Homo sapiens: one gene and its partners. The protein of the gene in region 2 purifies or fractionates together with the protein of the main gene of each other region. This does not show direct contact. Each region holds a gene or a part of one and is shown on either strand. Other genes may lie near its edges.

The links. Proteins that work in one complex are often made in the same cells at the same time.
Region 1: the proteins of PPP6R2 (region 2) and ANKRD52 purify together in Homo sapiens (affinity purification with mass spectrometry; 4 studies listed by BioGRID and IntAct, with this or other methods). This does not show direct contact.
Region 3: the proteins of PPP6R2 (region 2) and MYO5C purify together in Homo sapiens (affinity purification with mass spectrometry; 2 studies listed by BioGRID and IntAct, with this or other methods). This does not show direct contact.

What each region holds. Positions count from the first base shown.
Region 1 is NC_000012.12:56,255,368-56,263,345, forward strand, and holds the start of ANKRD52 (serine/threonine-protein phosphatase 6 regulatory ankyrin repeat subunit C), read right to left. Parts: upstream 3,018-7,978; 5' UTR 2,903-3,017; coding exon 2,876-2,902; intron 2,545-2,875; coding exon 2,461-2,544; exon of another isoform or gene 2,103-2,460; coding exon of another isoform or gene 1,995-2,102; coding exon 1,916-1,994; intron 1,719-1,915; coding exon 1,648-1,718; intron 618-1,647; coding exon 417-617; intron 1-416. UniProt on the Homo sapiens protein: Putative regulatory subunit of protein phosphatase 6 (PP6) that may be involved in the recognition of phosphoprotein substrates.
Region 2 is NC_000022.11:50,437,319-50,444,335, reverse strand, and holds part of PPP6R2 (serine/threonine-protein phosphatase 6 regulatory subunit 2), read right to left. Parts: intron 6,831-7,017; coding exon 6,733-6,830; intron 6,494-6,732; coding exon 6,436-6,493; intron 6,163-6,435; coding exon 6,038-6,162; intron 5,738-6,037; coding exon 5,574-5,737; intron 4,639-5,573; coding exon of another isoform or gene 4,636-4,638; coding exon 4,479-4,635; intron 4,376-4,478; coding exon 4,287-4,375; intron 3,536-4,286; coding exon of another isoform or gene 3,515-3,535; coding exon 3,310-3,514; intron 471-3,309; coding exon 219-470; coding exon of another isoform or gene 215-218; exon of another isoform or gene 211-214; intron 138-210; coding exon 89-137; 3' UTR 1-88. UniProt on the Homo sapiens protein: Regulatory subunit of protein phosphatase 6 (PP6). May function as a scaffolding PP6 subunit. Involved in the PP6-mediated dephosphorylation of NFKBIE opposing its degradation in response to TNF-alpha.
Region 3 is NC_000015.10:52,292,788-52,299,629, forward strand, and holds the start of MYO5C (unconventional myosin-Vc), read right to left. Parts: upstream 3,018-6,842; 5' UTR 2,850-3,017; coding exon 2,823-2,849; intron 2,425-2,822; exon of another isoform or gene 2,097-2,424; intron 1-2,096. UniProt on the Homo sapiens protein: May be involved in transferrin trafficking. Likely to power actin-based membrane trafficking in many physiologically crucial tissues.

The sequences.
Region 1 (7,978 bases), on a different chromosome or scaffold from region 2:
TTTTAGTAGAGACAGGGTTTCACCATGTTAGCCAGGATGATCTCGATCTCCTGATCTCATGATCCACCCGCCTTCGCCTCCCAAAGTGCTGGGATTACAGGCGTGAGCCGCCGTGCCCGGCCGGTTCTTAAACTCTTGTAAGTCTTTGCAAATGTGCTGAAAGACATGGACTCTCTTCAGAAAGGCGTGTATGCAAATATTTTCCACGCAAAATCCAAGGTTTTATCAACCTCCTGAAGTCCAAGTTAAGAATTTTAATCTAGTCTGACCATTCATTTAGTGCTTCAGCTTAAGTGTTTATATAACCATCCGGGCTGCTTCTCCTTCAGGCTTGAGGGCCCAGAAGCAGGGAAACGTGAGTAGGAAGGTAAGAAAAGGGAAAGCCCCAGCTGGGCCTGGATGGGAACAGTCCTCACCTCAAGATGCCCACTATGCACTGCATGGTGCAGAGCACTGCGCCCGCTCCTGTCAGCCACGTTGAGGCTGCTCAACAGGGGTGCCAGAGCCTCAGCACACTTGGTGGCCCGGTTGGCAGCAGCCACATGCAGTGGTGTCTGCCACAGCTTGTCCCGGGCATTCACATCTGCTGAATGTGCCAGCAGCAGCCCCAGCACCTTCTGTTGAGGGGCAGGGGACAAAAGAGAGAGTGGGAGCAGGAGGTAAAACAACAGGAAATGGAAGGAGGAATAGGTCAGCATAGCATCTACAGCCCCTTCCCCAGCACAGAATCTCTTCTCATTTTTCCAACATACCTAGCCTCTGAATACCTACTTTCCATCTTCTGGATCTTCTTAGAACTTAAGCTCTTCCTTACCTTGCTGATTAAAACAAGGACCCTTTGCTCTTCTTCAAGCCACCTGACTCGCCAACTTAGACCCTGAAAATCTTCACTCACACATACATCCATTCCCAAACAAATCCACATGTGGAGATCCACACATCCCAACCCCCTACTACTTCTAGGAAAACTAAATGCTCTTGCTACATCTTGCCCTGAACACCCTCTTTAGCCTTCTCATAGGCACCAAAATTATTTTCAGTATCTCAGTAAGCAAACAGATACTGGTTCGTTTGCAAAACCCGAGCTAAAATGCCCCTCCTAACCACCACCCACCTCATTCCCACTGGCCTCGGCCCCTCCCCCTGGTGGCTGGAGCCAGGGAAGTGATGAACTGAGGAGGAGGTCCCCCTTTCCCTGTCTTCAGGGCTGATGGGAATAGGATAAAGGACCCAACTGATGAAATATGTTTGGCCCCTGTGCTGTCAACTTTCAAGCTGCTTGAGGGCCAAGGATGCAACAGATTACTATACCCATCCTCCATCACAAGGAAAAGAAATCTCAGTGCCCAGAGGGGGATCAGACTCAAGGTGGCCCCCCAGGGAGGGATGAGTCACTCAGGCCTGGCAGCAGGGCCCCCGCAGTCTGCCAGCCCAGTGTTAAGCTCTTCCTGAGTCACATCAGCTGGCAGCACTCAACCCCCTTACTGGCCAGTTCTAGGGGTAGGAGGAAGGGGCCAAGATTTGATCTCCTCACTACCTGGGGTAGAACAGCTTGTAGGGCTGAGGACTGAGGCTCCTTAACCCTTAACCCCCACCTTTAAGCAACTTATCCTTTTTGAAAGGGTAATAGAAGGTGGGGGTGCATACCTCGTTTCGGGAGGCAGCAGCACGATGAAGAGGGGTCAGCCACAGTGTGTCCTTAGCATTGACATTAGCACCTGTGGGGATATAATTTCCTATTTTGATGGAAGGTGGGGAGGAGGTATGAAGGAAGCCAGTAATCAGGCCAGGAAATCTGAATGGAGCTGGAGCCTCGCCTGGACCAAGCCGGGGAGAGCAATCCTTGAATATCAAAAAAGACTCCTCCCCTCCCTTCGCTCCCTATGTGCCACACCTTCCAGCTCCCCACTTTCACCTGACATCAGTAGCAACTGGAGGATGGGGACATCGCCTACGTAGGCAGCAGCATGCAATGGAGTTCGCCTCTCTTGGTCCTGGGAAGGCAAAAAAGAGCAGGGAGTATGGGCGCGGGGTAAGGGGGCTATCAAGGACCCCAGCCCAAGTCTCAGAGCTCCAGGCCCTTCCCCACAACCTCTTCCCATAGTTTCTGCAGCGTCCTAAGTCCCGGTATTGGGAGTCAAAGGCAAGCACCTAGGGAGGGTGGAGTCAGGGCCAATGGGCTGAGAAGCCGGCTCCTTTTTCCAGGAGGGGTGGGGGCGCTGCAGACTCCGGAGGTTGAGAAGAGAACAACGTTCCTGGGCATTCCCAGCCCAAGTGATCTGGGCTTCAAGCCTGACCTGCTCTCCATCCCCAAATGCAGAGTAGGCTTTCACTCCAGGATGGAAAGAACTGCGGCCTCATCTGAGCAGAGGAGACACGGAGCCGCCCCACCGGTGGGGAGGGGTCCAGAACACGGGAGCCAGGATTCCGGTCTCGCCATCCTCCCTGCTCCCAACTCACCAGCACATTGATGTTCTCCTTCTGCGAGAGTAGGGAACGCACTTCCTCCACATCTCGGCTAAAGATGGCCTGGACCAGGGGCGGCTGCAGAGAGAACCGGCATTCTGAGAGCGGGCTGGAGCCGGAGCGGAACCGGTGTGGGGGTGGGGGTGGGGGAGCACCTAGGTTTGAGTGGGGGGCGTCCGTGGAGGGGCTCCACTCTAGGGATTCTGGCTGGAGCGAGCTCCCGCGGTGCCTCCGCCGGTTGCCAGGTCCCCAAGGACACCGGCTCGGTTGAGGGGAGCGCGGCATGGGGCGGGGCGGGAGCTGCGGGAGCCCCGGGCTCAGGCCCAGCCTAGGCCGCACATCCCCGGGCTCGCGTGACGGCAGCGCCGAGCCCTGGAAGGAGGAAGCGGGAAAGGGCAGGAGGGCTGACCTGGTCCGTGATGCTGAGGATCCCCATGGCTCGGCCCGGGCTCCGTCCGCATCGAGCTCCCGGCGGCGGCGGCGGCGGCTCCACCGGGGACACGGAGCGGCCCAGGCGGCGGCTGCGGTGGCGGCTGCAGGGAGAGCGCGGCCCCGCCTACCGGGGGGCGGGCGAGTTGGAGGCCGCAGCGCTCCCTGGCGGCCGTCCTGGTCCCGGCGCTCCCCGCGCAAACGGACCCCGGCCGCAGCGCCCTCCGCCCCACCCTGGCGGCCCCAGCAGCCCCTGCACCCCCGAACTCGCGCGCCGGCTCCCCGGCTCACGCAGCTGGCCGCGCTGTGCTCTCCGCTCCAGTCTGGCGGCCCAAGGGGTTCCCCACAAGACCCTAGCGGAAACCTGGGCCTTAGTCCCGCGGTGCTTCCCAAACTGAGGACCGAACGGCTGGCCAGATCTTACCCAGCCCACAATGCTCCCGCCCGAGCTAACTCCTCCCGTCAGCGATTCCACACCCCGAAATCCCCCACAGACTAGGAGGAACTGGCGGGTGGAGAACTGGGAATTATGTATGGCAATAGCCCCAGAGGGAGGGAAAGCGTGTATCTCCACTGGCGGAGGCGTGAGTTCGGTAGAGAAGAAATAGCAAAAGTGCTCAAACTGCAGAGAAACCCCAAGGAGGATTCTACTGCAGAAAACACCCACAAAGAGGCCATGACAACTGGCAGCTGGAAAAGGCCGCCAAGACCAACAGAAGGGGCATTTTCCAACTCCTTACTGATTCCATTGCAAGGTTAAAGTGGAAAACACTCAACAATTTCTCCCCAGAACAGCCTGTGGCGCTTCCCCTCCTCCAATGGAGAGGCCAGAGAGCCGTCAATTAGAGAAGAAATGAATGGAGGTCATCTCAACCCAGAAACGGAAAAAGGAGGAAGACGAAAAGTGGAGATTGAAAAATTGATACAATTTATAAAAGGTGATCCAGGGTCCTGTTCAGAGTTTCACAACTCAATACACATTGAAGAGAACACGAAATGGACGAAGTGCAGCATGCTGGCGTCCTGTCAAGGCTTTATATATAAAAATCCTCCCTTGAGGGGAGAGGAAAAAAATTAAAAAATAAAAATACATTTTATTTTATTTTTTGAGATGGAGTTTCACTCTCGTCCCCCAGGCTGGAGTGCAGTGGCACGATCTCGGCTCACTGCAACCTCCGCCTCCCGGGTTCAGTGATTATCCTGTCTCAGACTACCAAGTAGCTGAGACTACAGGCGCCCGCCACCCTGCCCGGCTAATTTTTTATTTTAGTAGAGACGGGGGTTTCACCATGTTGGTCAGGCTGGTCTCGAACTCCTGACCTCAGGTGATCCACCTGCCACGGCATCCCAAAGAGCTGGGATTACCGGCGTGAGCCACCGCACCCGGCGAAAATACATTTCAAAAAAGCCTTCCCGGCCGGGCGCGGTGGCTCACGCCTGTAATCCCAGCACTTTGGGAGTCCGAGGCGGGTGGATCACGAGGTCAGGAGATCGAGACCATCCTGGCTAACACAGCGAAACCCCGTCTCTACTAAAATACAAAAATCAGCCGGGCAGGGTGGCGGGCGCCTGTAGTCCCAGCTGCTTGGGAGGCTGAGGCAGGAGAATGGCGTGAACCCGGGAGGTGGAGCTTGCAGTGAGCCGAGATTGCGCCACTGCACTCCAGCCTGGGCGACAGAGCGAGACTCCGTCTCAAAAAAAAAAAAAAAAAAAAAAAAAAAAAGCCTTCCCATTCCCAACATGGTGAAACCCCATCTCTACCAAAAATATAAAAAAGTAGCCTGGTGTGGTGGTGCACGCCTGTAATCCCAGCTACTGGAGAGGCTGAGGCAGGAGAATCACTTGAACCAAGGAGGCGGAGGTTGCAGTGAGCCGAGATGGAGCCACTGCTCTCCAGCCTGGGTGACAGAGCCAGACTCCATGTCAAAAAAAAAAAAAAAAAAAAAAAGCCTTCCCTTGCTTTCCTGCTAGAAAGATACTTAAGACACTAGTAACAGTCCTTTTTTCCCAGAAAGAAAAACTGGGGTACAGGAAATAAGGAATGAGAGAGAAATTTACCTATCACTATATACCTTTTGGAATTTTTTAAATTTTTACCATATTGAAAATAAAAGTTAAAATATTGCTTAGGAGCAATCACTCCGTGATTCCATGCACACACAAAAATTATGAAGAAATTTAAACTTACCTCTTCCAGGAAGTCTCCTCTGGCTAATAGGCTCTTTTCCTTTTGTTAGTTCTCCTTAACACTTACATACTTAGTTTATACTGCCACAATCTGGTTAAATTGTACACCTTTGTTTCTCATTTCACCTTTTTTTTTGGAGACCAGTGTCGCTCTGTCGCCGCCCAGGCTGGAGTGCTGTGGCGGGATCTCGGCTCACTGCAAGCTCCGCCTCTGGGGTTCATGCCATTCTCCTGCCTCAGCCTCCCCAGTAGCTGGGACTACAGGTGCTGCCACCATGCCCGGCTAACTTTGAGTAGAGATGGGGTTTCACCATGTTAGCCAGGAGGTTTCAATCTCCTGACCTCGTGATCCGCCCGCCTCGGCCTCCCAAAGTGCTGGGATTACAGGCGTGAGCCACCGTGCCCAGCCAGGTATAGTTTTTTTTAAGCTCCAGAATATCAGTATAGAGAAACAGGCATTTAATATTTGATGACTGATGATGATGATGAAGCAGCAGCAGAAACCAAAGGTAGCAAAGGATCAAATGGATATGGGTGTTGGGACTTGGCTATTGGGTATGATGGGCCTTCCAGGAAGGGCTAAACTAGGATATGGCCCAGAGGATAAGGAGGAGGGGCATACATGGTATCCATTGCCCAAAATAACTCTAGGTAACCTGAGGAATTGGAGTCAGGGGTTCAGCTGGGGTCACGTGCCCGGTTCTGGCTAGGGGATGGAGGTGAACAAGAGAGGTTGCCAGCCTGGTTCTCTGGGCAATTGGAGGGAGGAGGACGGGCTAGAAGAGTTATTTTTAATATTATTTAGAGCATCAAAAGAGGATTTCCCAGTAGGAAAAAAAGGGATTTGATGTAGGGAACACTGATACTTTCAGGGCTCAGGGAGACACACAGGGTATGGGAGGAGGAGGCCAGAAGTGGTGATAAAACCTTCTTATATGGACAGTCCTTCTGGATTGAACTACAAGCATTCATATTTGGGTAACTCTAGACAGATGGCTGCCTATTTTTAAGCCTCAGTTTTCCTTCTTCTGACTAAATGTGAGGACTCACCCGATGTACAGCCCTGTACTAATTGGTCGGGAGGTCAAAAATTAGAAGTAATGGTGTCTCTTTATGAGGAGCTTATAACTTAGTAGATGAACATACATATACATGTGAAACAACTACAGAATATAGGATACATGCTAGATTACATGGCATTATGTGTTCAGAGTAATGTTGAAGGAAGGGTTCAGTCAAGAGGGTCTTCCTGGAGGAGGTGTGTTTTGAGTCAGTACTTGAAGGAAGTTATTGATGTAGAATGGTGGAGACATGGGAAGAAATCGGTTGTTTCAAGTATAGGGACTAAACTAGGAAAGTTTAAATGGCAGTAATTAGTTAAACCAATTAGTAGGGGACAGTAAGCAAATTGGCTTGGTAGGCCTGTTGGACCTTGGGGATTCTGTAGCAGTCAACTTGGTTAAGGCAGAGTGATAATGAGGTCACAGTTCAGTTATGTATCCCTGTTAATTTCTGTCTTTTAACCAACCAGATCCTTACTCCTCATTCAAAGCAGCTGTCTCACATGTATAAGCCCTTAGTCAGAGGCGGGTGGGGCTGGACAAGACAGTGGAATTCGAAAGAGTAAATCTGTCCTTTAAGGTCATGTGCCCATCTGAAGGTGGCTCCAGATTACCATTTGTGAACTGGAAGGAGGCACTGTACTACAGTAGTGGAAAGGAGGACTGGGGGATGTGGACATTTTAACAGACTCTCTCTGGAGTGCAGAGGCGAAAAGAAGAGATGTTAGGAAAGAAAATAAGTGAGATCATCACCCAACTTGGGGTATCACGGAAGAGGATAAACGGAAAGGTGGCGGCCGGGCACGGTGGCTCATGCCTGTAATCCCAGCACTTTGGGAGGCCAAGCAGGTGGATCACCTGAGGTTGGGAGTTCAAGACCAGCCTGATCAACATGGAGAAACCCCGTCTCTACTAAAAATACAAAATTAGCCGGGTGTGGTGGTGCATGCCTGTAATCCCAACTACTTGGGAGGCTGAGGTAGGAGAATCGCTTGAACCTAGGAGGCTGAGGTTGCAGTGAGCCGAGATCGCGCCATTGCACTCCGGCATGGGCAACAAGAGTGAAACTCTGTCTCAAAATTAAAAAAAAAAAAAATTAAAAAAAAAAAGAAAAGTTGACAAAACACATTTATAGTCCAGGCATGGTGGCTCATGCCTGTAATCCCAGCACTTTGGAAGGCCAACGTGGACATATTGCTTGAGTTCAGGAGTTTGAGACCAACCTGGGCAAGAAGATGAAACCCTGTCTCTACCAAAAATGTGGTAGTGTGCCCCTGTGGTCGCAGCTATTTGGGAGGCTGAGGTGGGAATATCACTTGAACCTGGAAGGCAGAGGTTGCAGTGAGCCGAGATTACACCAATGCACTCCAATCTGGGTGACAGAGTGAGACCCCCGTCTCAAAAATTAAATAGATAAATAATAAAACATATTCATTTGGTCAATAATTATTTTGAATTGGTAGTACTAACTGCTATAGAGGTAGAACAGCTTATTAAAAATGGGTTTTGATGATCACCCAATGGCTCTTGCTTACTTGAAATCCAGAGAAGATGGGCTCAAACTTTTTTTTTGAGACGGAGTTTTGCTCTTGTTGCCCAGGCTGGAGTGCAATGGCGCCATCTAGGCTCACCGCAACCTCTACCTCTGGGGTTCAAGTGATTCTCCTACCTCAGCCTCCCGAGTAGCTGGGATTACAGGCATGCACCACCACGCCCGGCTAATTTTGTATTTTTAGTAGAGATGAGGTCTCTCCTTGTTGGTCAGGCTGGTCTTGAACTCCCAACCTCAGGTGATCCACCTGCTTGGCCTCCCAAAGTGCTGGGATTACAGGTGC
Region 2 (7,017 bases):
AAAAAAAAAAAAGATTGCATCACCAGGTAGTTTTCTCGATTAAGGAGGCAGCCTGACCAGGGTGGGCCGTGGCCGGGCGGCAGCAGCATCACACTGGGCCATTTAAGGCAGCTCCTTCTGGCGGGGCATCTGTCTTCCTGCAGGAATGGGGTGGGGTTGGAACCGTGCGGGCTGCGGGCCCTGTCCACACCCCCTACCCCCACACTCAACCTGCTCACCCGTCCTTTGTCACTGTCCCCAGGGTGGCCACCATGGCTGGGGCTGCTGTGACTGCCATGATGGGCCCTAGGGGGACCGCCACGGCCAGTGCAGAAGAGACTGCTGGGGTGGGTATGGCGGGGCCAGCCTTGCTCAGTGCTGTGGTGATGGCCACAGTAGCCTCGGGGGGCACAGCCACGGCTGGGGCAGCAGTCACTTCCTTTGGCGCGGGGCAGGCAGGGCTTAACAGCCGGCTGTCAGCACACCCGACCCTGTGTGGCAAACATGGACTCCGGTTACGGGCACCCCCACCCTCAGTGCCACCCCGCCTCATGCCCAAGGACCAGCTGGACAAAAAGGTCCAGGCGGCCTGGGAGCACCATCTTTGGCCCCTCTCACTCCTGCCCTTTGTGGGGTGGCCCAGGTTGTGCCCAGCTAGGCAGCTCTGCTGCCCCAAGTTCCAAGTACTGGGACAAGCTGCCTGTCCATTGATGACCTCAAACCTCCTCCAGGCAGCACTCAGATCCTGCTCATCATCAAGCGCCTCATTCTTCAAGGACCCCAGAGCCTCCTGTGCTATGATCTCAACTTCAGCCTCACACTGGACACAGTCTGGGGAAACCTCCCAGGGGATGGGAGGGTAGAGAGGACCCTGCCGGGCATCTAAGGGGCTTGCTCTGGAGGGGGTCGGGCACCCCAAGGCCCAGCCTGGCCACGAGCAGCAGACGGGCCCCCTGGCTTCCTGCAGGGCGACGACACTGTGTCTGACTGAGGGAGGGGCACTCAGGTCAGGCGGGGGCGCGAGGAAGCTCACCTGCAGGCTGGGCCGTGACGACGGTGCAGGCAGGGCTCTAAGTGGCAAGTTTTACGCAGACAGCCCCGTGGAAAAAAACAACTTACTTTGCACAATGATATTCCCTGCTTTTCAGAGCAGTTTTTTAGGGGTTGTTTAGGAGAAGTGGGTAAAGGTTTGTTTTGGTTTTGTTTTTGCCGACAGTCAGTCTCTCTCATGCGCAGGCCGGAGTGCAGTGGCGTGATCTCGGCTCACTGGTTCAAGCGATTCTCCTGCCTCAGCCTCCCAAGTAGCTGGGACTACAGGCGCCTGCCACCACGCCTGGCTAATTTTTGTATTTTTAGTAGAGACGGGTTTTCGCCATGTTGGCCAGGCTGGTCTCGAACTCCCGACCTCAGGTGATCCACCCACCTCGGCCTCCCAAAGTGCTGGGATTACAGGCGTGAGCCACTGTGCCTGGCAGGGTAAAGACTGTTAAGAATTTCAGTGACTAGGCCAGGCGCGGTGGCTCACACCTGTAATCCCAGCACTTTGGGAGGCCGAGGCAGGCGGATCATGAGGTCAGGAGATCGAGACCATACTGGCTAACACAGTGAAACCCCGTCTCTACTAAAAATACAAAAAATTAGCCGGGCCTGGTGGTGGCGGATGCCTGTAGTCCCAGCTACTTGGGAGACTGAGGCAGGAGAATGGCGTGAACCCGGGAGGCGGAGGTTGCAGGGAGCCAAGATTGCGCCACTGCACTCCAGCCTGGGCAACAGAGCAAGACTCTGTCTCAAACAAACAAACAAAAATTTCAGTGACTAAACTTTAAGAAGGAATGAAGCCCACACAGGAACTCTGTATGACTTTCAACCCGAGGGGCTCTGGCCTGGGCTTCCCAGTGACTGCCGGCATCGGGAAACGGCCTTGGCCCCGTTTCCCGTGCTGTGCCCCCCACTTGCTGCAGATGCCCTGAAGACAGGGTGGCCAAACAAGGGGAGGAGCTGTGAGCACAGACGGGGCCTGCTGGTCAACAGGGCGGGGAGAGCCAGCCTGGTGCTGAGCTTGCAGCTTGGCTGGGGGAGATGCCCGGAGCCCCAGTACCACACAGACTCTCCAGGATTGCCGGGGGTCAGTGAGCAGGACCCTCTGAGGTGTCAGGCCTGCCCCACCTGTGGGGGAAGGGTAGTACAGGTGGGACGCATGCAGGCTGAGCTGCATTGGGCGGTGAGGCTGGGGGACACCCTCACCCCGCTCCAGGCAGGCCCTTCACAACCATGGAGCCAGGAGTGACTGGGATGCACCACCAGATGTGAAAGGCACCTTGTCCCCTCCTAGAGGAATCCAGCCCGAGGACTTCCCCACTGTTGCCTGGACCTACTGGGAGCTCAGGCCTCAGGGTCTTTGCACAGCTGTGCCGTTGCTGGGTGCGCCCTCCTCCCCACGTCAAGCCCAGTCCTACCCTCCCCCTCAGGTTTACCTGGCCCTGGCATCTACCCCAGCGGTCCTGCCCTCCTGCTAACCCACGCCCTGACCCCAGAGGCCAGAGAGGTATCTGTTTACTGAAGGATCCCAGGGACCTTCCTGTGGCCCTGGGGACGGATGGGGTTCAGCTTGCTGGAGGGGCCGGCCAGCCTCCAACCTCCTCACAGGGAGAGCCTCCCTCTCCACTCTCTCCCCAGGGATGGCTCTTGGGGGCTCAAGGGAGCCTGGGCCTCTGCCAGCCTGCAAGCTGCCTCCAACTCTCAGTCAGGATTTGGATGCCCCCAGTGCAGTCCTGAGGCCGCCGCCCCCCATCCTACTATCCTGCTTCTGAGGCGTCTCGGAATCATAGGCCTCCCGTGGAAGGGGAGCAGCAGGCGAGGTCTGCGTGAGCCCCACAGATGCCCGCTCGCCTGCCAGACTTAAAAGTCTGTGCCCCTCCCCGACCACCAGGGTACCCAGATCCCAGGCGGCTCAGCCAGGCCCAGAGCCCCAAGAGCTGGGCTGTTCTCTCCAACTGGGATCTGGGGTAGGGGCTGCTCCCCCAAGTCCCTGGGGGACTGTCTGGGACATCCAGGCCCTGTCTTCTTGTCTTAACCACTCACAACAGAGAACACGATGTTCTGTCCACGAAAGAAGGCCCCACACTTCTCCCATCTGGCCTCCACGTAAACGCGTGGGCACCACCGCCGCCTCAGCCAGCCTCTGAAGGGTCACGGGGCCATGGGGGAGGCAGTGTGGAGAAGACCCTGGCCTGGCCTCACCTCCTCTCAGGGGAGCTGAGACCTGGGGACAGAGCCTGGAAGCCACGCCCTATGCACCCGGCAGGCCCGCCCCCGCCACGCCCCACACACCTGCCGACAGCCTCCTCTGTCCTGGCCACTGTGGGCAGCGGGGGGGCCTCCCGGCCGGGACCCCTGCTCACCGCATCCATGGCACTCGCTGCCTTCTGGTCGCCATCCTCGCTGTGGGAGCCCCCAGAGGAGCTACTGTCAGAGGCCAGCAGGGGGGCCTTCCTGGTGACACACACGTTCCAGGCACATGGAGAAGCCGGGCTGACTGCAAAGTAGGAGGCCTGTGCTGTCCAGTGAGGCAGGAGGGGTCACAGGGTGCGGCCACTCCAGCCATAGGGTCCCCATACATGTGGCCCTCTCACATGCAGCCTGTTGCCTGCACACATGTGCCTGTGTGGGAGCCGCATGATGAGGCAGACAGGCTCACGCACCTGCCATGGGGTCTCCACACAAACAACCCTGTTGCCTCCCCCATGATACAGGGACACATGCCCTGGTCTCACAGGAGGACGCAGAGGCTCAGGGAGGGGCCCACTCCGCCTCGTGTGGTCCTGCCACAGCTCCTTTAAGCCCAAAGGACCCCAAAACCGGGGACACCAGTGTTGGGAGCCAGCTGTCACTCACCTGGAGCTCTCAGCCTTATCTGGGGGAGCTTCTGAGCCTGACTAGGGGGCTGGGGGCCAGGGGCTCTGATCAGGCCACAGAACAGCTTCCTGCCAACAACCCACCCACACACATCTCAATGCTGGGGTCCCAGTGCTGCTGTCCGGAATCCAGGGTGCAGACCTGAGCTGTGCCACCTACTCAGACCAGGCTCAGAGCCAGCCCAATGGCCTTGCTGCCTCCCCTCTGGGGGCCTCCCCATCTACACGTGGCTGCTCCAGTCCCATTGCTGTATCAAACCCCAATGTCACCAGAGACGTAGCAGCATGCGAGGCCCCGGCCACCTCCTCCCACTGCCCCCAAGGAGGGGGGCCAGCTGGCCTCAGGCCTTAAACTGGGCAAGGCTGGGTGCCGCCTGCACTGCTCCTACTCACAGGCTTTCTCAGGGCCTTGGCTCCGGCTGCCCTCAGCATGGCTGCATTCTGTGTCCACCGGAGAGCTGCACCTGGGCCCTGACTCGGAGCTGCATACAAGGACGAGGACAGGATCAGTCCTGGGGGACAGGTGCCTCCTGGCCCTGACAGGCACTTCCTGGCACAGCCCCCTCCTGCCAGCGCATTTGTTACCAGCAGAAAGGTTGGAAGTCAGTGAACTTGGCCCAGCCTTTCTCCTCTGGAGCTGAGGTGCCAGCTGCCCACACACTGGAACCCACGTCCCTCACCACTCCTGGGGCTGTGGGCGTTGAGTTCGCTGGCTCATCAAACACTGCCGTCCACATGGCGCCTGCTGGGGGAGAGACACAGTGGTCAGGCGTGGGCAGGCCTGGGGTGCTGCAGGCAAAGGGGAGGCAGCGCCCCTGCCCCGGGAGCCCCTCAGAGGTTGACAGGAAGATGGGGCTGCTCCAGGAGGGAGGCCCAGGCAGTGCCCGTCAGCCCCTCAAGGAGCAACAGGGGACAGCTCGAGGGTCCTGACAAGCTGCCGACACCCATGGGGCGTGTGACCTGGGGCTCAGTCAGGTGCCTGAGGGCCCCCAGGCCTCCAGCAGGACTGACACTGACAGTGTGGAGGTGATGCCACTGCCCTGTCCTACCCAGGACCGCAACCCACAGAGCCGGCAGCTCACCGAGCACCACTGGCCCCTTCCTGGCCTCGAGGATGGGGTGTCTTCCTCCTATCTGGGATGTTCCTGCTTCCCCAGGGTGTCACCCTTGCTCTGTCAGCGAAGAGCTCAGCCCCTCCTAACAGAGATCTCTGCCCCCGCCACCAAAGTCCTGAGTGCCTCAGTGCTGCCCCCAGGGCAGGGTAAGGAGAGGGGTCTCATCAGCCATGCGGCCTGTGAGGTGGACTGGCTCCTGCCATAGATGTCGGCCATGAAGGTGGCGGCCGGCCTGTGCTGCTGTGCTGGGGAGGGCGTCAGGCCTGTGCCTGACTGTGTGGGGGCTGGACGGACGATGGAGACTAGGTGGACACCACCCACCAGCCTTGGCAACGTGGCTGAGTGACCACAACTGCAAGGCAGGGGCAGGAGGCCACCTTGCGCTGGGCACAGCGCAGCACAGACCCCTACTCAGGACGGCTGGGAAATAGCTGGGGATTCAGGCTCCGGGCCACAGTGAGCCCCAAATGCCTCAGCTCCAAATGAAGCCTCCACAACACCCAGGCCGGGGTACCATGTCCTGTCCCCGATACCCACACTCCCAGCCCCTGGCGCCCAGCACCACCTTCTGAGTCACCCTCCACAGGGGGCGCTTCCTTCTTCCCGGGGGCCGGTGGGGCACCTGCCCCAGGTGCATCTCTGTGTGCTTCCAAGCTCGCCTTCCCATCCTGGCCTCCACGCTCTGGGCCATTCTTTGAGCAACTCTCTGAAGCATGGGGGGCTCCAAACCTGGGGGAGATTCAGAGTCAGATGTCTGGTGGCCCAGGACGGACGCCTAACATGGAGGGTCAGTGGCGGCCCCAGGCTCGGGGCTGAGGGTGAGCACAGATCGTCTCGAGAGAGGAGCACGAGACGCTCCAGGCCTCAGCTCTGGGCTCCTTAGGGTCACCCGCTGCATTGGGCCCCAGAGCTGGCAGGACAGGTGTGGCTGCTCTGCAAGCCAGCTAACGAACCACAGGGCGTCTGACAGGTGTTCTGGGGGCTGAACCTCCTCGGCAGAGGCTTTGTGGGGATGGGCAGGCCCCGCACCTGGGTCTGGCCATCACCCGGGCAGCACAGCGAGTGTCACTGTCCTCCCAGATGTCCTCGTCCTCATCATCATCAAAGGGCTGGATGCGGTCACTGCAGCAGGCCTCAAACAGAGCTGCGCTGGGCTGCAGAGTAAAACGCCAAGGTGAGTTTCCAGAGGGTCTGGGGGAGACAGGAGCCGCTCTCCCCATAGAGCTCCCAGAGGGGCTTAGTTCGGGATGTGGGAGCCCCGGGCTGGAGGGGAGGACGGGGAGGGGCAAGGAAAGCGACTGTTCCGAGCTCCACAGAGGGGCCTCTCCCAGCCCCACCGCACAGGCCCATGACAGACCGAGCCATGGGCATGGCCTGAGCTGCCTGGGAAAAGGGTGGCGGCACCCCACACAGCCCGGCTTGCTCACACTGTCCTCGTCAGCGTCGATGTTGAAGTTGATCTCTGCGATCCTGTCAAACGGGGCACTGCAAGAGCAAGGGGGATGGCTTCAGCGTTCCTCCAGGCCCACTGCTCATCTGGGGCCTCAGTGCTCCTCCCCCGGTGCTCATCGGGGGCCTCAGCACCCTCACACAACTGGGAACACCTGCTGTCTCCCGGGGACATCAGACGGCACTCCCGGCAAGACCTCAGGGAGCTGCCTCCACGGGAGCTCAGCAGCAGGGAGAGCCGCGCCTCGTGCAGAGTGCGCTCCAAGTAGACTCACTTGATGTTGTCGTCCTGGTCGGCAAACTCCTCATCATTGAAGCCAAACTGATCCACGAAGTTGGCTGTCATCTGCTGGATCTGGTAGTCAGAGAAGGCCTGGGAGGGAGGGAGGGAGGGAGGGACGGACAGACACCGGTCATGGAGGAGGCATCAGGCCTGGAGGCTGCTCTTTGGGAACCACAATCTCTCTAGTTGTTCGGGAGCTTCTCCTCCAGCACAAGTGGGCAGTAAACTCTGTTCAGGGCTCACGATTCTACCAAAACTCAGGCTGCGCGCTCGCTGC
Region 3 (6,842 bases), on a different chromosome or scaffold from region 2:
GAGGTCCTGCTCAAATTGAAGGTGGAAGGTGCAGGTGCCATGAGCAAAGGTGACAGACAGAGGCTCAGACAGGTGGAGTTCGTGTGCCAAGGCACGCAGTGGCAACGTGCAAGCAAGGCATTGAGGGAATGGCAAGGAGTCTGGCAGAGCATGAGCCAGGTAAGAGCAGGAAGGCAGGGAGAGAGGCAGGACCTCGTGGCTGGTCAGTGAGTCTGAAAGCAATGGGAGCCTCTAGAGGTGGTAGAGCAGAGAATGCCAGACCGGCTCTTCTTAAGAGAGATTTCAAATAGGGGAACTGCTGCTCTGAACATTTCTAAGGCATGGCACCTGTAGCTTTTCAAAAGAGATGGATGATTTTACACCTCACCTGGCAGCGATTGCTCCCCTCACCAAGACTTCTCCTGGAGTTCCCTCTTCCCTGTTCCCACAGGGTGGCTTCCAGCTCCCCTGTTAGCTCCTCCTCTGGATGGCTCCATCTCAGCCCTTCTGCTTCCTCTCACTCCTTGCACAGATGCATTCCCCGCTGGCCTGTCCCTCACCCTCTTCTCTGTCTGCCTTCTCCCACCTTGGTGAGACCCTCAGTGTCTTGTTGGCTTCAGTGACCACCTCTGGGCAGAAGACCCTCGGCAGGGCCCATCCCCTCCCTCTGACACCTCCCACCCTGCAAGGCACCTTCCCTTGGAAGCCCCCTCACCCCTTCAACCCCTGCAAATACAGAACTTGCCTGATGACTTTCTTAAGAAATATTTCCTCCTCATGCCACATCCTTAATTCACTCAAGGGCACCACCCTGCTGTCTCTCATACAGACTCTAACCTCAAATGTCATCCTTGGCTGGTCCCTTCAACCCCCACCCCACTCCCCAGTCCAGCCTCTCAGCCTCACCTGCCTCCACCCTCCATGGCCAACACTGCAGCTCTAATTCTTTTCCAACAGCTGGAATGACCTGAGAATTCAGCTACGTGACCCCGGCCTCTCTCCTCCACAGCCCAAGGGCGCTGCTGGCATACATAACAAATCTAACAGTCCTAACACACCACCCTTGATTCTGCCAGCCCCCACTCAAAACCCACACTGGGGAATAAAGCCCTGACCTCGCTCTCTGGCTGCCATGGCCCTCCCCTTCACACCTCCAGAACAGACAAAATGGGGGCTAACTGCCCACCAGGAAGGGAGGTGGCAGCCTAGGAACACAGGTGTCTACGTGGACACAAGGTCAGTGGGAATGGCCATCAGGCTGCGTCAGTCTCTGGGATTCTCAGATTCTCATTCCCTCCAAGCTTGTACCTTTAAACTCCTTCCTATCAGTTTTCTTACATTGTGCCTGGTACTTACTAGACATTTAATAAATATCTGAGGTTTGAGGCACCTAAAAATAGGGGTGCTTGCACCTGTGTGTTTCTGCTTCTGGAAATACTGTCACCTCAAATAGGTTCAGCAGCAGCATTTTTCTCTGTCCTCCAAAGTATCGTCGAAGACTAGTCCAAGACTTTTCTTTCACTTCCAGTAAACTGAAGGCTGAAGAAGCGCTGTTGGCTGTCTGAGGGCTCACAGTCTCACTGGTGAAAATATTCTAGAACAAAACTAGGGCAATTCAAACACTGTCCATTTAGAACTCCAGTTAATGGAGATGCAATAGAGGAGAAACTACAGTTCGGTTGCTTTGTGTCCGGACTGTTACTAAGTAATCAAAGTAGAAGAAAAACGTTTGCTTAAACCATTGAAACATGATTTTTTAAATAACTATCTTTTCTATCTACAGCAAAAGCATCTTTTAAAGTAGAAAGCTAGAGCATGTGTCCGGGGAAATGGATGGATTCTAGTTCCACTCGTCTGAATACTGAGGTCTCTAGATTTCCCCAACTGGTGTATAGGAGGATCAGGCTTTATGGCTATTCAAATGGATTTTTTTTTTCAAAAGTGCTAACACTGTCACACTCTTTATCCAAATAATTACCCAAGCCCATCTCAGAGGGTTTGGGACATATGTGGGAACGCTGCCCTTCCGAGGTAAGAGGTGGAGCCCCAGCCAGCAGAAAGGAAGCTTCTGAGGAATGCTCTAGTGTTTCCCAGAGTCAGGGTATATGAAAGGCGCTTTAGAAACTGTGGTGTTTGTACTGTTGCTAACAGTACAGATGTTAGGCAAAGAGCCTACGACTGCACCTCGTGGCCCCTGGGCTCCCCAAGCGCTTGGTGCCACTGCAGTGCCCTCAAGCCTGTGACCCAGGCTGCTTCAGCTTCTGATGAGCCTACATGCACGTTCACGCACTTTGAAGACACAGAATTCTAGAAAGCAGCCCGAACACTGCGGCCATAAGCTTCTATGCCAGCTCGTTCAAGGGGGTCCCAGGAGGGGCCAGGAGACTGGCCGGCGTCTCAGCTTCCTACGTCCGCATGGGCAACTCTGATTCCACCCGTGGTGTGGTAGGAAGGGACCGAGGCGCTCCAGTCCCGGGAGATGGGGACGCACGCGCGACCCCTGGGCACTGGGGATTCTAGGCCCCGAGGCCGGAGCGGCGGAGGGGGCGGCCCCTCCCACAGGGTCTTCCCACCCACAGGGCACCCAGGCGCAGCGGAGCCAGGAGGGGGCTTACCCGCGGGCAGGGACGGAGCACGCCGGGGCCCTGGAGGGGCGACGCTCGCTCGTGTCCCCGGTCCCCGTGGCCCCTCCGCGGCGCCTCCGCGGCCCCCAGCGCGCGCCCGCCCGCCCTGCCGTGTCAGGTGCGCAGGTGTGGCAGGTGTGGCCCGGGCGCCAGGTCGAGTCAGCGTTAGCAGGGCCGGCTCCCCCACAGCGCTCCCAGGAGCCCAGCGGACCCTCCTACCTGCGTGTACAGCTCGGCCACCGCCATGGGCAGGAGGGGCCGGGGCCAGGCCGGGGCTGCCGAACGTGCGAGGCTCGGGGGCTGGGCCTGCGCCGCAGAGGCCGGGCGCAGGAGAGACCGCCGCGGAAATCACCGCCGGGCCATCTTGCCCAAAGTTTTCCAACGGCCTCCTGTTCCCGTTCCCGAGTTGGCGGCGAGGGGAGGGGGCAGCGGCGGGATTGGTCCCTCCAAGCTTGGCCCGGCTAGTCGGCGCTGCCATTGGCCGGGGCCGGGCGGCTGCACCTGGCGGGAGCGCGGGTGGAGAAGGTTGGGGCCCGGGGCGCGCTGCCAGGCAGGAACAGATGCATCCGGAGGCTGCCCGGCCCGAGTGTTAGCTCCTCAAAGAGCAGAGGATACGACCATTTAAATGGAAGACCCAAGGGAATCAACGTACTGAACACAAAGAAATGTGTTAAGAGTCCAGCAAGGTCATCGTATTCAAAATCAAATACAAAAATAAGTAATGGTCCTTTATATGAGCATTGTCTATGCAATACAAGATATTTACAATATTAGTGAAAATATAAAGTATCCAGAGATTACACTCGCAAAAATGCCCTTGGCCTTTGTGGAGAAAATGTTTAAAATTCTCTTAAAGAGCTTAAAAGAAGGCCCAGGTAAACGGGAGACATGCCATTTTCCTGGCTGGGAATATTTAATATGGTCAAGGTGTCACTTCTACCCAAATCAATATATATGCCTAATATATTGGCGTCAGAATCCTACAGAACTTTTGGAGAATTGTACAATGATTCTATATTTCATATAGAATAAAAGCCCTGTATAACTAAGACAATTCTCAAAGAGGAGAGATTTGTCCTGCCATATATTTAGGGACATAACAAAGCAGTAGTCATTAAAACAGTGTGACACTTGCGTGAGAACGGATACGTGAGTAATGGAACATGCTGGAGCCCCCCAGCAGGGCCCTACATTATACGGTAGCCTTAAGGACCAGATAGGGAAATAAAATAATATTTATTAGATGGGCCCGTTATATGGAAAAACAATAAAAGCAGATCCGTGGCAAACACTGCATCCAAAAATAAGCTCCAGATGGATTCACGATTAAAACTTAAAACCGGGAAATTATTAGGAATAAAAGAGGGATAATATCTTTAAAATGTTGGGTTATAGTAGTTTCCATATAGAAGAATTGTTAATCGGTTAAAGAAAAGAAATCCAATTTTTAAAACTGACAAAAATTAATAGGCAATTCACAGATGGGGACACTTAAATGGCTTGTTAGCATACAAGGAGATGTCAACTTTAGCAGTAATCAGATAAATACAAATGAAAACAACAATGAGATATTGCTTTTTACCCATCATATTGGCAAAAACATTTAGGTTAGACAATCTCAGATACTGCCTAGGATGTGAGAAAATAAAAACTTGGCCGGGCGCGGTGGCTCACGCCTGTAATCCCAGCACTTTGGGAGGCCGAGGCGGGCGGATCACGAGGTCAGGAGATCGAGACCATCCTGGCTAACACGGTGAAACCCCGTCTCTACTAAAAATACAAAAAATTAGCCGGGCGAGGTGGCGGGCGCCTGTAGTCCCAGCTACTCGGGAGGCTGAGGCAGGAGAATGGCGTGAACCCCAGGGGGCGGAGCCTGCAGTGAGCCGAGATTGCGCCACTGCACTCCAGCCTGGGCGACAGAGCGAGACTCCGTCTCAAAAAAAAAAAAAAAATAAATAAAAAAAATAAAAACTTTTTTTGCTTACATAACTGGTGGGAATATACTGCCATCCTGGAGAGCAATTTGAGAATAGTTATGAAAATAAATGTAGGCAGAAAAATTCTCACAGTCACCCAAAGAGACAGTTAAGTAGATGTTCATCACAACATAGTTATTTATCAAAGAGTTGGAAGCATCTAAATATCAATAGGGGAATAAATAAAATAGTATATACATGGCAGACAGCAGAGAAAAATAAAAAAAGAAATAGTATATACATGTAAAACTCTACAGCTGTTAGTAGGAATAGACATGATCTACTTGACTCAGAAATAAAAAACAATGTTGAATAGATGTCTAGCCCAAGTCTTTAATATTTAAAAACTCACAAAAACTGCAATACTGAATATTGTTCATGGGTACAAGTATGTGTGAATAGAGGTAAGGAGGATAAATTACAAAGTCATTCATTAAATATGCAAGAGTGGATACCTATGAGGGAGAGAAATGGAATCGGAGATTTCAAAAAGGGGATCAAAAAATATAAAGAGAGGCCTGGCATGGATCAATAATGATAAATGCCACAAAGAGAGGATCATGGTAAATTTAATTTTGCATTTATTTATATACAAAATTATTTATATTATTGCCCAAATAATTCTATTTTGTATAAAGAAAAAGAAAATCTATAAGGTGAGTAGTGACAGCTGCCTGATTGCTCAGAGTTAAAAAGAGAATCTAGCTGCCTTTTTTATTTAAAGAAAATTTTTATTGAAGAATAAAATTATATACAGAAAAGTGTGCAAATAATAAGTGTACAGCTCAATATATTCTTATTCATGGAACACATCAACACACCAAAGTAACCACCGCCCAGATCCAGACGTAGAACATTACCGATATCCCAAAACTTTCTCTGTTTCTTCAAATCATTTTCTCTCAAAGATAACCACTGTTCTGATTTGTATCACCATAGATGCGTTTTACCTGTTTTGGATGTTTTTAATAAATGGAATCACATGTGTAACTCTTGCATTTGGCTTTTTACATGGTATTTATTCATCTTGTTGCATGTAGCTGCGGTTTGAGGTCTTTCATTCCTGTCTAGTAGTATTCCATTGTATAAATATTCTACAATTTATTCATTCTCCTATTGATAAATATTTCGGTTGCTTCAGTTTACACCCACTATGAATAATGCTGCTATGAACATTTTATATGTGTCTTTTGATGCACAAATATATGTATTTTTGTTGGGCACATAAACAGAGCAGAATTGCTGGATCACAGGTATGTAATGCTCAACTTTAACGGATAATGCTAAAGAGATTTGTAAAAAATTGTTATATCAATGTATACTTCTACCAGCAGTGTGTGAGACTTTTAGTTGCTTAATATCCTCACCACTTGATGTGGTCAGTTTAAAAAATAGCCTTTCTGATGAGTGTGTTATGATGTCTCACTGTGGGTCCAAGTTGCATTTATTTCTATGATGACTATTGACCACTTTGGTATTCTCTTTTGTGAAATGTCTGTTCAAGTCCACTTGAACTGCTATTTAAACAGATTTTCAACCAATTCCTGTGTTTTCAGCTGCATGCCACTTTCAGTGTTACCTGCTGCCTCTGAACCTAATTCCTGAGCTTTTCGGAATTATGTAGTGCAAACTGGATTGCTTCTGGGCTTCTGCCTGTCCCGGGTTAGGTTTCAGTTTTCTTTGCTTGTGAAAATAAAAGACATTTATCCATCTGTTTTTCATCTTCCAAGCTGTTGCTGTCATTCCTCATTCATTCTGTTTTCCTTTGTGAGTTTATTGTTACTTACCGGAGTTTCAGGAGGAAGGTTGAGTAAATACAGGTATTGAATCTACCATCTTTAAACATTTTGATCACAAACCCTTTACCGATATATGGTTTGCAAATATTTTCTCCCACTATATGGATTGTCTTTTCATTTTCTTCATGGTGTCTTAGGCAGCACAAAAACTTTAAATTTGGGGGAAGTCCAATTTATCATTTTTTAATTTTGTGGATCATGCTTTTGGTGTTGTTATCTAATAAATTTTTGCCTAGCTTAAGCTCATAAAGATTCTCTTCTAGATGTGTTATAGTTAGAACTCTGACATTTAGGATATGGAATTTTTTTTTTTTTTTTTTTTGAGACAGAGTTTAGCTCTTGTTGCCCAGGCTGGAGTGCAATGGCGTGATCTCGCCTCGGCCTCCCAAAGTGCTGGGATTACAGGCGTGAGCCACCACACCTGACACCTGGCCATTTTATTTATTTCTTTTTCTTTTTTTTTT